2 separate regions of the Homo sapiens genome follow, and region 2 is linked to region 1. A link means that fine-mapping ties the variant in region 1 to the expression of a gene that starts in the linked region. Tissue or cell type: whole blood. Region 1 holds a variant in brackets; the other region holds the start of a gene. All regions are shown on one strand. Distances are from middle to middle.

Region 1 (8,325 bases):
AGTGGAGGAGGTGGGCCCAGGGAAGTTGATTGGCAGGCCCAGGAGTGGGAGTCAGGCACAGGTCACTCCAGAGCCTGCCCTTCCCTGAATGGAACCAGGCTGCTGGCTCCCAGGGACTAGATTCTGTCCCATATGGTGGGAGGGGCTGGTGGCAGCTGCAGTCAGAGAGGGAGCTGGGGTCTGGCAGGCTGTGGCTGCCTCTGGACTAGGGGATCCCAGCCACACCCACATCCTCTGGGTGCAGGGAGTGAAGTCTGTGTTCTAACTGGGGTCTGGGGAACCCGCCTGGGAAAAGAAAGGGATTCTGCTCCTCCAGCCGGATGCAAGTGGAAGAAAGAATAACACATCACACCAGAAGGTTGGAAGCAGAGGATGGGGAGGGTGCTGGGCAGTAGGCGCTGGGTGGTGGGCCTCTGGGGGGTGCCCAATGGCTCTGGCAGAGTTGACGGGGCAGGGGCAGAGGGCAGAAGGCAGAGTCAGGAGTACTCCTGCCTCTGCTGGGTCTAAGCCCAGGCACATCACTGAGCACTTGACCAGCCTGACCTCACCATGGCCTTGTGAGGTGGGTATGGTGTACACCCTCCTTTTAGACGTTTATAGATATTTAGAGGAAAATGAGGCCCTGACAGGGCATCACGTGCCCAAGGTCACTCAGAGCAAGGATTTGAACCCAGGTCCCTGACTCCAAAGCCAGTGCTTGGAACAACGTTGGGGGTCTTCTTCCCCACTCCTCACCTACCTTCTAAACAGGCACTGTGGGGCAGGGTGGGGCTTAGATGAGAGAAAATTCTGGAATCCTGAGCAACTTTGCCTGGGGGGCTCCGCGGTGGAGGGCAGCAGCACCCAAGGACCAGCTAGCCACTCTCTCTGCCCCTCCAGCCTACAGGTGGGAGGATAAGGCTCAGGGCCGACAAGTCCTGTGGCCTCATGCAGCAGAGCTGAGCCGGGACGAACCCTGTCCCCTGGAGAAGCAGGGGACACCCTGGCTGGCTGTGACCACTTTGGCCACCCTGGGCTTCCTGGGTTGGTCAAGGGGTCTCTGGTGTAAAAAGGGGACTCCCTGTCAAAGACTGAGTGAGATGGAGCTGCCCGGCAATGTGGGCCTCTCCCAGTGACTGTCCCTGTTCTCTTGGGCAACGGAAGCCCGAGGATACAATGATGTGTCCCTTCCTTGGCCACACTGGTACCCACAGGGATTATTGTGTTTCTACCTGTGGAGTCAGCTCTCAGGCGCCTCCAGCACTGTGGGAGAAACCCCTGGGACCCCAGTGCTTCTTCCCAACCCTTGGGACTGGCACCCGTCTCTTGTTGAGAGAAAGCACAGTCATGTCTGTCATTCAGAAAATCACATCCCTGGATGGCCAAGCCACGTCAGAAGGGATGGGCTGTGGGGATCCAAGCGTGTTCTACCTCTGGGCTGCACCCGCCATCCCTCTGCTTCGGTTTGAATGCTTGTCCCCGCCAAAACTCATGCTGAAATTTAATCCCCAATGTGGCAGTATTGAGAGGTGCTGCCTTTAAGAGGTGACTGGATCATGAGGCCCTGTCCCCGTAGATGGATTCATCCATTCATGGATTCATGGGTTAGTGGGTTATCATGGGAGGGTAACTGGTGGCTTTGTAAGAGGAAGAGAGACTTGAGCTAGCATGTGAGCAGGCTCAGCATCCTCACCACGTGATGCCCAGTACCGTCTCGGGACACCAGAGTCCCCACCAGCAAGAAGGCCTTCACCTGCTGCAGCCTCTCTGAGGCAGGAGGAGAGGGAATTAGGGAAGCCAAGGGTTGGGGCATAAGCAAAGGAACAGCAGGTACAGCCCGTTCACATAAGCCAGAGAACAGCAGGTGCAGCCCGTTCTCATAAGCCAGAGAACAGCAGGTGCAGCCAGTTCTAGGCAGGATTGGGGAGCACACAGGCCACATCCTCACTGCTGTGATAACAAGTCAGGAGCTTCCACTTCAACCTCTGATTGACCCTGGGCCAATCCTCCACTTCAGCCTCTGATTGGTCCCAGGCTAATCCTTCATAGGGTGTAACCAATTGGAGGCCTCTAAAGGGCATCTGGGGTGTTCTTTATAAAAACCCTGAGAAGCATTGCAATTGGGAGGTCCTTGAGCCGTTTGCTTGGGCCCGCTCCCACCCTGTGGGTTGCACGTTCGCTTCAATCAATCTGTGCCTTTGGTAAGCTGTTTTCTTGTTGCTTTGTCTTTTTTTTTTTTTTTTTTTTTGGTGGAGTTTCACTCTCATTGCCCAGGCTAGAGTGCAATGGCACAGTCTGGGCTCACTCCAAACTCTGCCTCCTGGGTTCAAGCGATTCTCCTGCCTCTGCCTCCCAAGTAGCTGGGATTACAGGTACCGGCCACCACGCCCAGCTAATTTTTTTGTATTTTTAGTAGAGACGGGGTTTCACCATGTTGGCAAGGCTGGTCTCAGGTACCTCGGCCTCCCAAAGTGCTGGGATTACGGGCGTGAGCCACTGCGACTGGCCTGTTTTGTCTGTCATTGTTTCATTCTTTTGTTACTTTGTGAGTTTTGTTCACTTCTTTGTTCAATACACCAAGAACCTGGACAACTCAGTCAGGACCTTCCATCCTATAACACCTCAACCTCGGACTTCTCAGCCTTCATAACTGTGAGAAATTCCTTTTCTTTATAAATTACCCGGTTTTAGGTATTCTGTTATAAGCAACAGAAAATCTACTTTAAAAGCCTCCATGGCACAGGTGAGCCCTGCAGTGTGTCTGGGTGATGCCTGCAGCTGTCGAGAGGGAGGAGACAGCTCAGAGTCACCTGCAATCTGGCTCTTGCCATTACAGACTCCAGATGATGAAGTTGAAAATACTGACAGGCTGGAGGCCATCTGGGGTCCTGCTGGCTCCCAGTTCCAGGAAGCCTGGAAGAGCACTGGGGTGAGCTCGGGCCAGCGCATGTTTACTGTCACAGGGGACATGTTTCAGCACTTTCATTGTAAGGCTGTGGCCTTCTGTGCTTGTGGATCCTCAGTCTCAGTGGCCTTCCTCTTCCCCCCACCCCAACTCCTGTGTTGCGTGTTTAACACACCTACGCCCAACCGGGACATAACTAAATCCTAGACTGTGGACAAAGAATACAGTCACCTCAGGGGGCTGCGAGCTCTAAAGGCTCAGGGCCCAGCTACCCCTTTAGGATGGGTCAGTAACAACACGACTGACTCTGTAAATTGGTGATCACCTGAGACTGGACCTCAGCACCACACGGACCTGTGCTTCACCTTGGCCATCGGGGGAGAGTATGGAGGTCTTTTGCTGGCAGGAATCAGCACCCTTATCCTGGCAATCAGCACTCACTGGCCATTCATGAGGCTCCAGCAGGACGAGTGGCCACAGTGTGCAGGGCACAGGGGATGGGGCTTTCCAAGGTGTTTCTGGATGACATCAATCACACAAGGAGTTGTAGGAATGCTGGCATCCTGGTTCACGGGTAGACGCCAGAGGATGCCAAGGGTGCTGGGTAGAAAGCAGAGGATGCCAAGGGTGCTGGGTGGTGGGCCCCTTGGGGGTGCCCAATGGCTCTGGCAGAGTTGTTGGGGCAGAGTCGGGACCACCCCCACCTCTTCCGGGTCCAAGCCCAGGCACTGCACTGAGCACTTGATGAGCCTGACCTCACCATGGCCTTGTGACGTGGGCACTGTGGGCAGGAATGCTTATGGAATGAGGCCCACTGTAACCCTAACACAGCATCACAAGTCTTTCCCCAGAGAGAAAACGCACAGGCAATGGAAATCTATGGTTAGGAACAAAGATTCCCGTCTAAGAAAAAGGGTGGACCACGGGCCTCTAGAAGGGACTGAGGGGGCAAAGTCCTGCCCGTGCACTGGCTAACACTCTTCCTTTAGCTTTTCCCCCCCACTTTCCATATTGTACATTTTATCTGTTTATAATTTTTCTTAGTGCTGACTAAATTCCAGAGTTAGACCTTGAAATCCACAAGTTCCTAATTGGTGGTCAACAGAAACCTCAGCAAGACAAGCAGAAAATGCTCCTCTTCCCCTAAAGCTGTAGAAAGGCAGCCACCAACCTGGGCTAGGAAATGGTCCTTACAGATACTATTTTTTTTTTAACTGTGGTAAAACCTATATAACAAAACTGATGCTAATTTAACTGTTTTTAAGAGTAGAATTGAGTGACATTAGTTCGATTCACTGTTGGGCAACCATCACCACTCTCTATTTCCATAATTTTTTCATCACCCCAAATAGAAGCTCTATATCCATTAGCTAACTCCTCATTTCCCCTCCCTCTAACCCCTGGTAGCCTCTATCCTTTCTGTCTCCATGAATTTGCCTTTTGGAGATATTTCTCATAAGTGGAATTGTAATGTTTTCAAAGTTCATCCATGTTGTAGCATGTGTGGGCATACCATACCTTTTTTTTTTTTTTTTAAGAAGCGGAGTTTCCCTCTTGTTGCCCAGGCTGGAGTGTAGTGGCACAATCCCGGCTCAATGCAACCTCTGCCTCCCGGGTTTAAGCAATACTCCTGCCTCGGCCTCCCAAGTAGCTGGGATTACAGGTGCTCATCACCATACCCGGCTAATTTTGTATTTTTAGTAGAGATGGGGTTTTACCATGTTGGTCAGACTGGTCTTGAACTTCTGACCTCAAGTGATCCACCCACCTTGGCCTCCCAAAGTGCTGGGATTACAGGCATGAGCCATTGCACCTGGCCTTTTTATGACTGAATAATATTCCACTGTATGTTGCTGGCATGCAATGGTGCATTCTCTTATAAAGCATTATCTTCTCATCCTTTTTATTTGTGTAAAGTTGGTAGGAATGTTCCCACTTTCATTCCAAATTTTAGTAATTTGAGTCTTGTCTCTTCTTTGTTCATCTAAAGTATTGTCAATTTTGTTCTTTAGAAATAACCAGTTTTTGGTTTTGCTGATTTTCTCTATTTTTCTATTCTCTATTTTGTTTATCTCTGCTGTAATCTTTATTATTTCCTTCATTCTGCTAGCTTTGGGTTTAGTTCGCTCTTTTTCTAATTCCTAAATGTGTGCGGATAAATTATTGATTTGAGATCTTTCTGCTTTTTTAATGTAGTCGTTTACAGCTATAAATTTCCCCCAAGCACTGCTTTC[A/G]ATTTCACCGCATGCTGTAAGTTTTGGTATGTTGTGTTTTTGTTTTGTCTCAAGGTGTCTTCTAATTTCCCTTGTGACTTCCTTTTAGACCCATTGGTTGTTTAAGAGTGTGTTAAGCCTGGGCGCGGTGGCTCACGCCTGTAATCCCAGCACTTTGGGAGGCTGAGGCAGGTGGATCATGAGGTCAGGAGTTCAAGACCAGGCTGGCCAACATGGTGAAACCCCATCTCTATTAAAAAATATATAAAAATTAACCAGCTGTGGTGGTGCACACCTGTAATCCTAGCTACTCAGGAGGCTGAGACAGGAGAATTGCTTGAACCTTGGAGGTGGAGGTTGCAGTGAGCTGAGATCGTGCCACGGCACCCCAGCCTGGGCGATGGAGCAAGACTCCGTCTGGAGTCGGGGAGGGGAAGAGTGTTAAGATCCTTTTGTAGTTGATGAACAATGATGATTGGGTGTTCATGCACATGCGTGAGATGTGTCACCCTCAAACCCTTACGTCGGCACGTTACCCATCTGACGTGAAAAAGAAGAGAGTGCGTTAACTTCCACATATTCATGAGTGTTCCAGTTTTTCTTCTGCTATGGATTTATAATTTTATCCTATTGTAATTGGAATGATACTTTGTATAATTTCGTTTTAAAAATTTATTGCTGGGTGCAGTGGCTCATGCCTGTAATCCCAGCACTTTGGGAAGCCGAGGCAGGGAGATCACCTGAGGTCAGGAGTTCAAGACCAACCTGCTTAACATGGTAAAACTCCATCTCTACTAAAAATACAAAAATTAGCCGGGTGTGGTGGCGGGTGCTGTAATCCCACCTACTCGGGAGGCTGAGGCAGGAGAAGCACTTGAACCTGGGAGGTGGAAGTTGCAGTGAGCCAAGACTGCACCATTGCACTCCAGCCTGGGCAACAAGAGCAAAACTCCGTCTTAAAAAAAAAAATTAAGACTTACTTTATGGCCTAACATATGGTCTATCCTGGAAAATGTTCCATGTACACTTGACAATAATGTGTAGTCTGTTGTTGCTGGTTTGTGTGTTGTGTATATGTCTGCTCAGTCTAATTGGTTTATAGAGTTGCTCAAATCCTCTTTCCTTATAGATCTTCTGTTTGGTTGTTCTTATCCATTATTGGAAATGAGGTATTGAAATCTCCAATTGTGTATTTCTCATTTAATTATATCAATTTTTGCTTCATACATTTTGGGTGTTTTAAGTGTGTGTATGGATACAATTGTTGTATCTTGAGAAGTTGCAGCTTTTGTCAGTGTATACTGACCTTGTCTTGTTACGGTTTTGACTTAAAATCTATTTTGTCTGATAATACTATAGCCATTGTTAAAATATACTATTTTCATGGAATAACTTTTTCCAACATTTTACTTTCAACTTTTTTGTATCTTTGTATTCAAAATTTGTCTCAGCCGGGTGCAGTAGCTCACGCCTGTAATCCTAGCACTTTGGGAGGCCAAAGTGGGTGGGTCACTTGAGGTCAGGAGTTCAAAACCAGCCTGGCCAATATGGTAAAACCCTGTCTCTACCAAAAACACACAAAAAAATTAGCCAGGTGTGGTGGTAGACACCTGTAATCCCAGCTACTCAGGAGGCTGAGGCAGGACAATTGCTTGAACCTGGGAGGTGGAGTTTGCAGTGAGCTGAGATTGCATCACTGCACTCCAGCCTAAGCGACAGAGTGAGATTCCACCTCAAAATAAAATAAAATTTGTCTCTACAGGCTGGGCATAGTGGCTCACACCTGTAATCCTAGCACTTTGGGAGGCCAAGGCGGACAGGTCACCTGAGGTCAGGAGTTTGAGACCAGCCTGGCCAACGTGGCAAAACCCTGTCTCTACTAAAAATACAAAATTAGCTGGGTGTGATAGTGGGTGCCTATAATCCCAGCTACTTGGGAGACTTGCCCAGGGGTCAAGTGGCAGTGAGCCAAGATCGTGCCACTTCACTCCAGCGTGGGTGAAGAGTGAAACACCATCTCAAAAAAAAAAAAGTCTATACAGCATATAGATAGACAAAGTTCTAAAAAAATCCATTCTGCCCATCTTTTTTTTTTTTTTTTTTTTTTTTTTTTTCCTGAGACAGGGTCTTGCTCTTGCTCTGTTGTCCAGGCTGGAGTGCATTGGCAGGATCACAGCTCACTACAGCCTTGACCTCCCGGGCTTAAGCGATCTTCCCACATCAGCCTCTTGAGAGCTGGGACCACAGATGCACATCACCATGCCTGGCTAATTTTAAAATTTTTCTGTAGAGATAGAATCTCACCGTGTTGCCCATGCTGGTCTCAAACTCCGGGGCTCAAGCCATCTCCAACCTCAGCCTCCCAAAGTGCTGGGATTACAGGTGTAAGCCACTGCATCTGGCCCAATCTCTGCTTTTTAATTGGAGAACTTAACCCATTTGTATTTATAGTAATTAATGAGAAAACCTTTACTTCTGCCATTTAGCTGTTTGTTTTCTGTATGTCTTATGATTTTCATTCCTCAATTCCTCCACTACTGCTTTTTACGGATTTACTTTTGTACAATTTTGATCCTTTCTTTGCTTTCCTATATACTTTTTAGTTATTTTCTTACTGGTTACTTTTGGTATTACAAGTAACATCTTAAACATATAACAATCTAGTTTCAATAATACCAATTGAATTTAAGTAGTATACACTGCTATTACACATCTTCCCTCTGTCAGTCACAGATTATATCTTTATACATTGTTTCCATTAATGTGGATTTATAGCTTTATGAATTTTACCTTTAAATCATAAGAAAAAAGGATGAGTTACACAAATCCAAAGTGAAATAACACTGGCTTTGCTAACTACCTGTTAGTTATCTCTACCAGTGTTCTTTAGTTTTTCATATGGCTTCAAGTTACTGTCTAGTGTTTATTTTAGCTGGAAGGACTCCCTTTACCATTTATTGTAGGGCAGGTCTACTAATAAAACTCCCTTAACTTTTATCTGAGAATGTCTTAATTTCTCCTTCATCCTTAAAGGATGTTTTGCTTCTTCTTTCAGCACTTTATTTTGAGAATATTTTTTGAGACGGAGTCTTGCTCTGTCGCTCAGGCTGGAGGGCAGTGGTGCGATCTTGGCTCACTGCAACCTCCGTCTCCCGGGTTCAAGCGATTCTCCTGGCTCAGCCTCCAAATAGTTGGGACTATAGGTATGTGCCACCATGCCTGGCTAAT
Region 2 (8,325 bases), 30 kb after region 1:
GCTCCCTGCCCCTCGGTTGAGATGGACAAAAGTCTCCAGGAATGACTACAGGGGAGGCTGCCAAAGCATGCAAGCTTCCCCATGGAGGAAAACGCCAAAACCCTCCAACGCAGGTGTCCTGCCCCGCCCGCCAAGCCACTGTTGGGCTGCCATCCCACTGCCTCCCCCGCCCGTGGGCAGCCAAGGTGTGCGGAACTGGGAGAATTGGGTCTGCTCAAAGCTCAGCTTGTCCTGCATGAGGCTGCATGCATCAGTGTCTGCCCCTTAACAATCAAATGGGGAACACTGCTCTGCTGTTGCTGTATATCTGGGAACACAGTGATTCTGGGCCTGCAAGGCTGGAAGTCCAACCCTGGGACTGGGTGGCCACAGCATGGTGGCACCACGCCATGGGAGCCATCTGGGCGGCCAACCAGCAGCTCTTGGGAACCAGTCCTTGACTGCCTGGGTGCAGCTTCCTGAAACCGCTCCACTGGCTCGTTCAGAGCCTGCCTGCAGAGGGCCAGTGATAAATCTCCCCACTCTTTTCTCATTGGCAACGCAGACAGGTCCTGGAAATGCCCAATTTCCAGGTTAAGAATCAGACCCCAGCTCTGGCAACGAGCAGCTTGATATCTCCCAGGGCCATTCCTGAGCCTCCCGGGAAACAGGCCAGCATGCCTGAGCATCCCCCGCCTGGAGAAGGAACAAAGACCCAGGACCAGCCAGCCTGGTCCCCCTCTTCTGGGGGACCCTCCCGAGTAGAGCAAGAGGGGAACCTGAGGGTCCTGGGGGCTGCCCCTTCAGAGTCACCCAGGAAGCTCTCCTGGAAGACCACAGTCTGTACACATGCATGCAGGGACACACACCCACACAGGGACAGGCCCTTTGCCTTGGGGTCTTCAGTGTCAAAGTGCTCATGAGCCCTGGGGATTAAACCGAAGACCTGCACACAGTGTGATCAAGAGATCAAACAGTGGGAAGACGCGGGAGGCTGAAGGGAGATGCTCCCTGTGAATACAGAGAAGCCCTCTTCACTCCAGCCCACCTGCAACTGCCCTCAGGCCTTGGGTCAGAATCCTGGCCCTGCCACTGACCAGCTTGGTCACTCTGTGCAATCTAATTCACCTCTGTTGCCTCAGTGACTTTATCTGTCAAGTGAGCTCTTAACAGTCTTGACCCCAAAAGGAGATGATGCAAATTACTTAGCCAAGGACCTCCCCAAAACCTGCTGGCTCTTATTAGCTGTTATCTTAAACCTGTGGGGTCCAGTTCTGGGCTTGCTTCCTCCAGGTAGCTCTCCCCAGCGTCCTGTGGCCCAAAGCACTTTTGCCTTCCTCTGAGCCATAAGCTTCCCTACTGCTCACCTGACCTCAGGGCTTCTGGGCTGCCTGGGCTTCCTCTGACTCCTGGTGGCTCCTGCACACAGTAGGTGCCACAGAGAACACAGCCCATGCTTAAATCCTGGCTGCGGCCCTTGCTGGCTGCACGGGTGTTTAGGTCAGAGACTTCCCTTCTCTGACCCCCTAGCTTCCTAGAAGGTGGTGTTGGCACCTACTCTGTAGGGTTGGTCTAAGGCAGATGAAGTGAGGGGGTGGCCCACAACCTGCACTTTTTGTCTGGCCAAAGCAACAGCCTGTCCAGAGATGGGGGCACGGACCAGGTCACCTCCAGAAAGCAAGAACTGTGCAGGCCAAGCTGGGTCATTGGTGGCTTGGCTTAGAATCGGGAAGATAAGCGGAAGCCCAGATGTGAGGAGATCTGGCAGCCCAGAGGGAAGCACCGGGTGGAAGCTAGGTAGGGAAACAGGGATGCGGGGGAAGGCAGAAACTGTCTGGTGGTTTCCAGAGAGGACAGGGACCAAGTGCGCAGCGTCAGCTCTGGCAGGCCACATAGACACCAGGAAACCAGCCCCAGGACGGGGGGTGTTGGCAGGAGGGACAGGGACTTCCCCGCCCCCTCCCTTGGGCCCTTGGTAAATGGTCATTGTGTTCAGTTTCCGGCAGTGGCCTCCTCTCCTGCCAGGATCCTGGTTTTCCTGACCCAGCCAGAAGCTTCCCCTTTGATTTCTAAATAGCAGTCGAGGTCTGGATCTCAGTGCTGAGGCTGGGCAAGGAGCGCCAGGGCCAGAGAGAGGGAAGACAAGACCCCCAGGCAGGGGTGGGGCTCAGCTCTGCCTCTCCCTCAGTTCCTCAGGGACGGAGAGAGGGAACCTGCACGGCCACTGTGAGCGCTCCGCCGGACCCTCCCAGCACACAAAGCCCGAGCTGCTGCCAGAGGTAATGAAAGCCAGATGAGCGCTGGGCTGGTGTCAGCCTCCCACCCCCACCCTCCCAGGGGTCCCTCTCCAGCCGCCAATGAGGACCAGAGCCCTGGATAGATGAGGGTTGAGGGAACACGTCTGGTCCGGCCATCTGCCAAGCTCAGGAGGAAAGGGTCTCTCAGGCGTGTGGTGTTCCCCCACCAAGAGCTCTGCCCAACACTGGGCGGAGAAACAAGTCGCATCCAGGCCCTGTCTAGGTACCGGGACACCAAGAGGCACGAGACTCAGGCTAACAATCGCCAGCAATCACAACGCGCCACAGTCTAAAGCCATGAAGCGACTGGAGACGCAGCAAGGCAACACGATGCCGCACGGGGACTCAGGAGGTTCACTGTGAAGGCTGCAGCCCAGCCAAAGCTCTGATGGGCCCTGAGCCCCCGATCCAGGAATGGCCTCTGTGCAGGCCCTGTGCCCAGGCAGAGCAGGGCGAGGGGGGCATCTCTGGATTCCACTCCCTCTGCTGTGTAGTCAGCAGCAGTCAGGTGGGAGGCAGATGGCACCACCCAGAGACCCAGGGCACACGAGAAACAAGCCCCCGCCCTCACCTAGTCACCCTCCCCTCCATCCATCACAGGTACACCACTCCCTTCTCTGAATCCTACCCAGTCCTTACCGATTCAGGGTGTTGGCACTCTTTCCAGTTAAGCAGAAACAAGTCTTGCCCGCCCTGGGCCTGGGCCACCCTCCTCCCCTCACCACCAGGACATCTGGTCCCACGTGTTGGAGGCCTGCTGCTCCACCCCATCCCCCGACCCCCCCCCCACCCCGCTCTGAGCAGCCCCGATGTCCCTGGTCACCAGATCCACATCTGCCCCAAGTAGGGTCTGTCTGGAAGGCCCCTATGGTCTCATCACCTCTGAGGATTCTAGGATTTGGCCTTCCCGACCACTTGTTCCACACCTGCATCGTAAAGGCTAACGACGCGCTGCGGGCCCTGGGTGGGAACTGAGTGAAATAAGGCACAGGCCACCGATGTAAACAGGGACAGTGCCGCAGAAAAAGGTCCACCTGGGCTGCAGCGGCCTTGGTGACAGCAGGCCCTGGAACGGTATTGAGGGGCGCAAAACCCCAGCCGTGGTCCCTACTGTTGGACGGGGCGCGGCGGCAGCCCCCACTGCCCACCCTGCTGGCTGATTTCTGCAGAAGGCCCCGACCCCCACCTATGGAGGAGAGAGGAGGGAGGCGGCCCGCTGGGATCGCCCGGCCCCGTCCGGGGCTCGCCCCGACCTGCCCAGCTCTGCCGCGGGTGGGGAGGCTCCGACGCACCCCCCGCCCGACCGCCCCAGCTCACCCACCTCCGGGCGCGGCAGGTCGGGGTCTAGCTGCGTGAAGCTGTGCAGCACCACCGGGCAGCTGTCGGGGACGCCCACCTCCAGGCGCACGGCGTCCCACACGCTGCGGCTCCGCCGGGAGCCCGGAAACAGCGGCTCGGCGCCGCCAGCAGGCCCGGCCGCCTCGGCCCACATGCGCTGCACCATGGAAGGCTCGCAGCGCGGGCGCGGGGCCGGCCCGGCGCGCGGCGGGGGCGGCGGCGCGGCCCGCGCGGCTGGGCTTTGCCACCGCTGTGAGCCCGCGGCCCGGCCCTGCTGATGTCAGGCTGGGGGGCGGGGCCGGAGGGGAAGAGGGTGGGGCCGGGGAGGGGCGGAACCGGAGAGTCCGAGGGACGCGTGCGTGCGCGCGCCCGCGGCCCCGCCCTCGCCGAGGTCAGACCCGGGGCGGGACCGGGAGCCTGGAGGGGCGGGGTCTGAACAAAGAGGGCGGGGCCGGGGAGGTCGAGGGGTGCGCGTTGGCTGGGTCTCCCGGAGGACCGGCTGTCACGTGTGTCGTGGGGCCTTGGGTACCCCGGTTAGGCACCGTTTGCGTGTCACGCTGCTGCAGTGCGTGTGTTGCGTAGGGCTGAAATGTGTACGTGCTGATCATGTGTGGGGAAGCCGCCCTGGAGTCAGCTACCCCGAATTCCAGCAAAGCCTCTCCCCAACTCTGTGGCCTTCCACAAGTTGCTTAACCCCTCTGAGCCTCACTGTTTCTTCATCTGGAAAATCTGGGTAGTGAAAATGACTTCCTCAAACAGTTGCGGGGAGGATGACATTACGTAATGGACATGAAGCACTCAGCACTGAGCACCTGCACCTGACTACAGGCTCAGGCGGAGTTTGGAGAGGCTGACCATGTGTTCAGTGACCCTGTCAGTGCAATTGGAAATCCTGAGTGTGGGGCTGTGTGTGCAGTGGGGGAAAGGGTCAGAGAGTGGGGCCCTACCTTTTTGGGGCAAAGCCCCACACTATCCCCTTACAGACACCCTCAGAGGAGGGGAAGCCAGGGAGGTGGGGGAGAGCGGAAGGCACCAAGGTTGGGGCTGAGAGGCATCTGACAAGGAGGAAGGCATCAAGAGTGACAACGCTGGGCAGAGCACATGGCTGCGTGGCCTGTCAGCTGGGGCTGCTTGTGGCTTGGACATCCCTGGTCTCAGGGTGGAAGTGGGGCTGCTGGGGCTGAAGGGGAAGCAGGGACAGGGACATCCTCAACTACTCTTTCTGGAAGCCAGTGAGGAAGGAAGACAGCCTGGGGCTTAACAGCAGGGCCAGGAGAATGGATGAATGAATGGGACCCTTCCTCATGCCTCACTCATCACTGGGCCTGCCCTGGCCTCAGCCTTCAGTCTTCATGGAGGCCAGCAATTGCTGCCAGCAGCCCTGGCCATGCCAACCTCCCCAGGTCTGGTCCGTACTATTGGGCCTCAGTTTCTCCATCTGTAAACTGAGAGGGCGGGACCAGACAGCACATTCCACGAGCACATCTTGCCCCCTTCCCAAGTGCCAATCCTCAGACACCCACGAAACACTTCCACTGTGACTGGAGTGAGGCGGCAGTTCATCCGTTCAGAACAAGACCCCCATGTGCACACGACTAGAAGGGCCTACTTCACAAAAATTATGGTGGTAAGTTGCAGCTGGGTGGAAGCTCTACTGGTTTTCATTTTACTTCTCTGAATTTCTAATTTCTAAAATCAGTATTTTAATAATCAGCTCTATGTGATAAATGCTGTTTTTGAGACAGTCTCACTGTCACCCAGGCTGGAGTGCAGTGGTGTGATCTCGGCTCACTAAGGCCTCCGCCTCTTGGGGTCAAGTGATTTTCCTGCCTCAGCCTCTCGAGGAGCTGGGATTATAGGCACCTGCCACCATGCCCAGCTAGTTCTGTATTTTTCGTAGAGACAGGGTTTCACCATGTTGGCCAGGCTGATCTTGAACTCCTGACCTCAAGTGAACCGCTCGCCTCGGCCTCCCAAAGAGCTGGGATTACAGGCAGGAGCACTACGCCCAGCCTGTTTTTGTTTTTTTTTTAAGAAGCAAGATGGGTAGATTTGATTTGGGATGGAGATCCCTAGAGGCTGTTTAGGAAGCCTCCAAGCCGTTTGGCCAGGGAGGGTAATGTGGGTGAGGCGTATTTCGAGGCAGGAGGTCCCCACAGGGCCACAAAGAGGTGACCGAGACACTGCCCTCGGCCCTAAGCTCCTCCTCCCATCCCTTTCTTCTGGGGCCAAGCTCCCAATGCCTCCGGAAACTGAAAGTCCAGAAGCTGCCTGCCACTGACTTTATCTCCTCTGCTCTCTTTATCTCCTTCGCTGAGTGATGGGCCTGGGAACAAGCGCCCACCCGTTTTATAGCCCAGAAGGACAAGTGACTCATGAGGACATAGAGGAATCACCACTATTCTGGCCTTGAAGGTCCTGGGTGCTGGGGCGAGGGGTGGCCCCAAGGAGGCTGGAGTGGTGAAGAGTAAAGAATTCATCACACTAAACCCCCCAACGCGGCTGGCCTGGCTCCCTCCCATCTGACTATATCATCTACAGGAGCCAGGGCGGGGGAGGGCGTTACTTAGCCAGTCCCTCTGGCCGGTGTCTGTTTTTACAAAGTTCCTCTTCCTGCCTTGTTCCCCTACCTTTGGGACTCACCTCCCAACTTCTGGGAAGCCTGATCACTGCTCTGGCTGTACATGAGACACACACACACAGACAGACACAAAGATACACAGAGATGCACACACAGAGACACACACATAGAGACAGAGACACAGACACACACACACACACAGAGACACAAAGATACACAGAGATGCACACACAGAGACACACACAGAGAGACAGAGACACAGACACACACACACACACACAGACACACAAAGATACACAGAGATGCACACAGAGACACACACATAGAGACAGAGACACAGACACACACACACACACAGAGACACAAAGATACACAGAGATGCACACACAGAGACACACACATAGAGACAGAGACACAGACACACACACACACACAGAGACACAAAGATACACAGAGATGCACACACAGAGACACACAGAGAGACAGAGACACAGACACACACACACACAGACACAAAGATACACAGAGATGCACACACAGACACACACATAGAGACAGAGACACAGACACACACACACAGAGACACATACATAGAGACAGAGACACAGACACACACACAGACCCACAGAGACACATAGAGACAGAGACACAGGCACACACACACACACATAGAGACAGACACAGAGACACAGACGCACAGAGACAGACACAGGCACACACATTTAGAGACGGAGACACACACACAGAGACATTGGAACAGAGACACACACGCAGAGATAGAGACACACAGACAGAGACATACCTACTCAGAGACATAGAGACAGACACAGAGGCTGGGTGTGGTGGCTCATGCCTGTAACCCAGAGCTTAGGGAGGCAGAGGCAGGATTTCTTGAGCCCAGAAATTGGAGACCAGCCTGGGCAACATAGCAAGACCCCATTCTCCACAAAAAGGGAAAAAACAAGTTTGAGATAGACACAGACACACACACACAGATATAGAGACATAGACACAGATACACACACATAGAGACAGAAACACAGATACACATGCCCCCCTAATGAAGGCACAGATAAAGTTCCCTGCACAGGATGTGTTGCCCAATGCCCTCAGATCGGGCGGGCCTGACTCTGCCTCACACTGTTAGCAACTGGGGTTGGCATTCATGGGACGCCTCCTGCATGCAAGACCCTCTCCTGAGGCCTCCTGTAAGCTGTGGGGACACCCTAACCAAGGGCAAGGCCATCCTGGGACAGCGTGTGTCACCAGTGGAGGAACGCAGCACCACTCACAGTGTTCTCCTCAAAACCCAAACCTAAATCAAGGCAGGCCTCTGCATATAACTGCCATTTGTGGGATTACAGGGGACAGAGAAACATGTTCAACACACCACAAGGGTGCAATCCACAAATCCAGGCTGTGGGAACCTCTATGGGACAAACAACCCAGTTTCTTCAACAAATACATTTCAGAGGAAAAAGAAAGGGGAAACTAGACTAAAAGAAGGGTCAGAGACGTCTAACAAATGCAATGTGTGGATTTTGGATCATGATGTCAGCAAGACAACTGTTTAAAAAAAACAACTATAAGACATGTGGATTGTCTGAACACTGCTACATATTGGATGACATTAGACATCTTTTTAGGTGTGAGAATGGTGTTGCCGTCACTAGTAGAGTTACATCTTGGGCTATCTGTGGATGGCATCACATGCCTGGGATTCATGTAAACATCTCCAGGGGCGGGCAGGGAGTGGGGCAGTGAGAGGTGAACAAGAGTGGCCCTGCACCGATGGTCGTGAAAGCTGGGGGTCTTTATGCCATTTTCTCTATTTTTGTGTCTATTTGGAATTATCCATAATAAAAGTTATAAGAAGAAAAATGGCCAGACGCAGTGGCTCACGCCTGTAATTCCAGCACTTTGGGAGGTTGAGCTGGGTGGATCACTTGAGGTCAGGAGTTCAAGACCAGCCTGGCCAACGTGGTAAAACCTCATCTCTACTAAAAATACAAAAAAATTAGCCTGGCATGGTGACGCGTGCCTGTAATCCCAGCTACTTGGGAGGCTGAGGCAGGAGAATCGCTTGAACCTGGGAGGTGGAGGTTGCAGTGAGCCGAGATTGCACCACCG

The links.
Region 2: RALGDS starts here. The variant in region 1 is fine-mapped to the expression of RALGDS in whole blood (INTERVAL, PIP 0.93).

The regions. Positions count from the first base shown.
Region 1 is chr9:133,087,509-133,095,833 of GRCh38, forward strand. It overlaps LOC124902343 (small nucleolar RNA U13), which reads left to right and starts at 5,544; the gene lies at 5,544-5,643. RefSeq lists an enhancer at 2,980-3,481. The variant A/G (reference allele first, on the strand shown) is at 5,119.
Region 2 is chr9:133,117,375-133,125,699 of GRCh38, forward strand. It overlaps RALGDS (ral guanine nucleotide dissociation stimulator), which reads right to left and starts at 3,866. Exons shown (of 18, transcript NM_006266.4): 1 at 3,598-3,866. The coding sequence starts at 3,780. RefSeq lists an enhancer at 2,770-3,466 and a silencer at 3,446-4,155.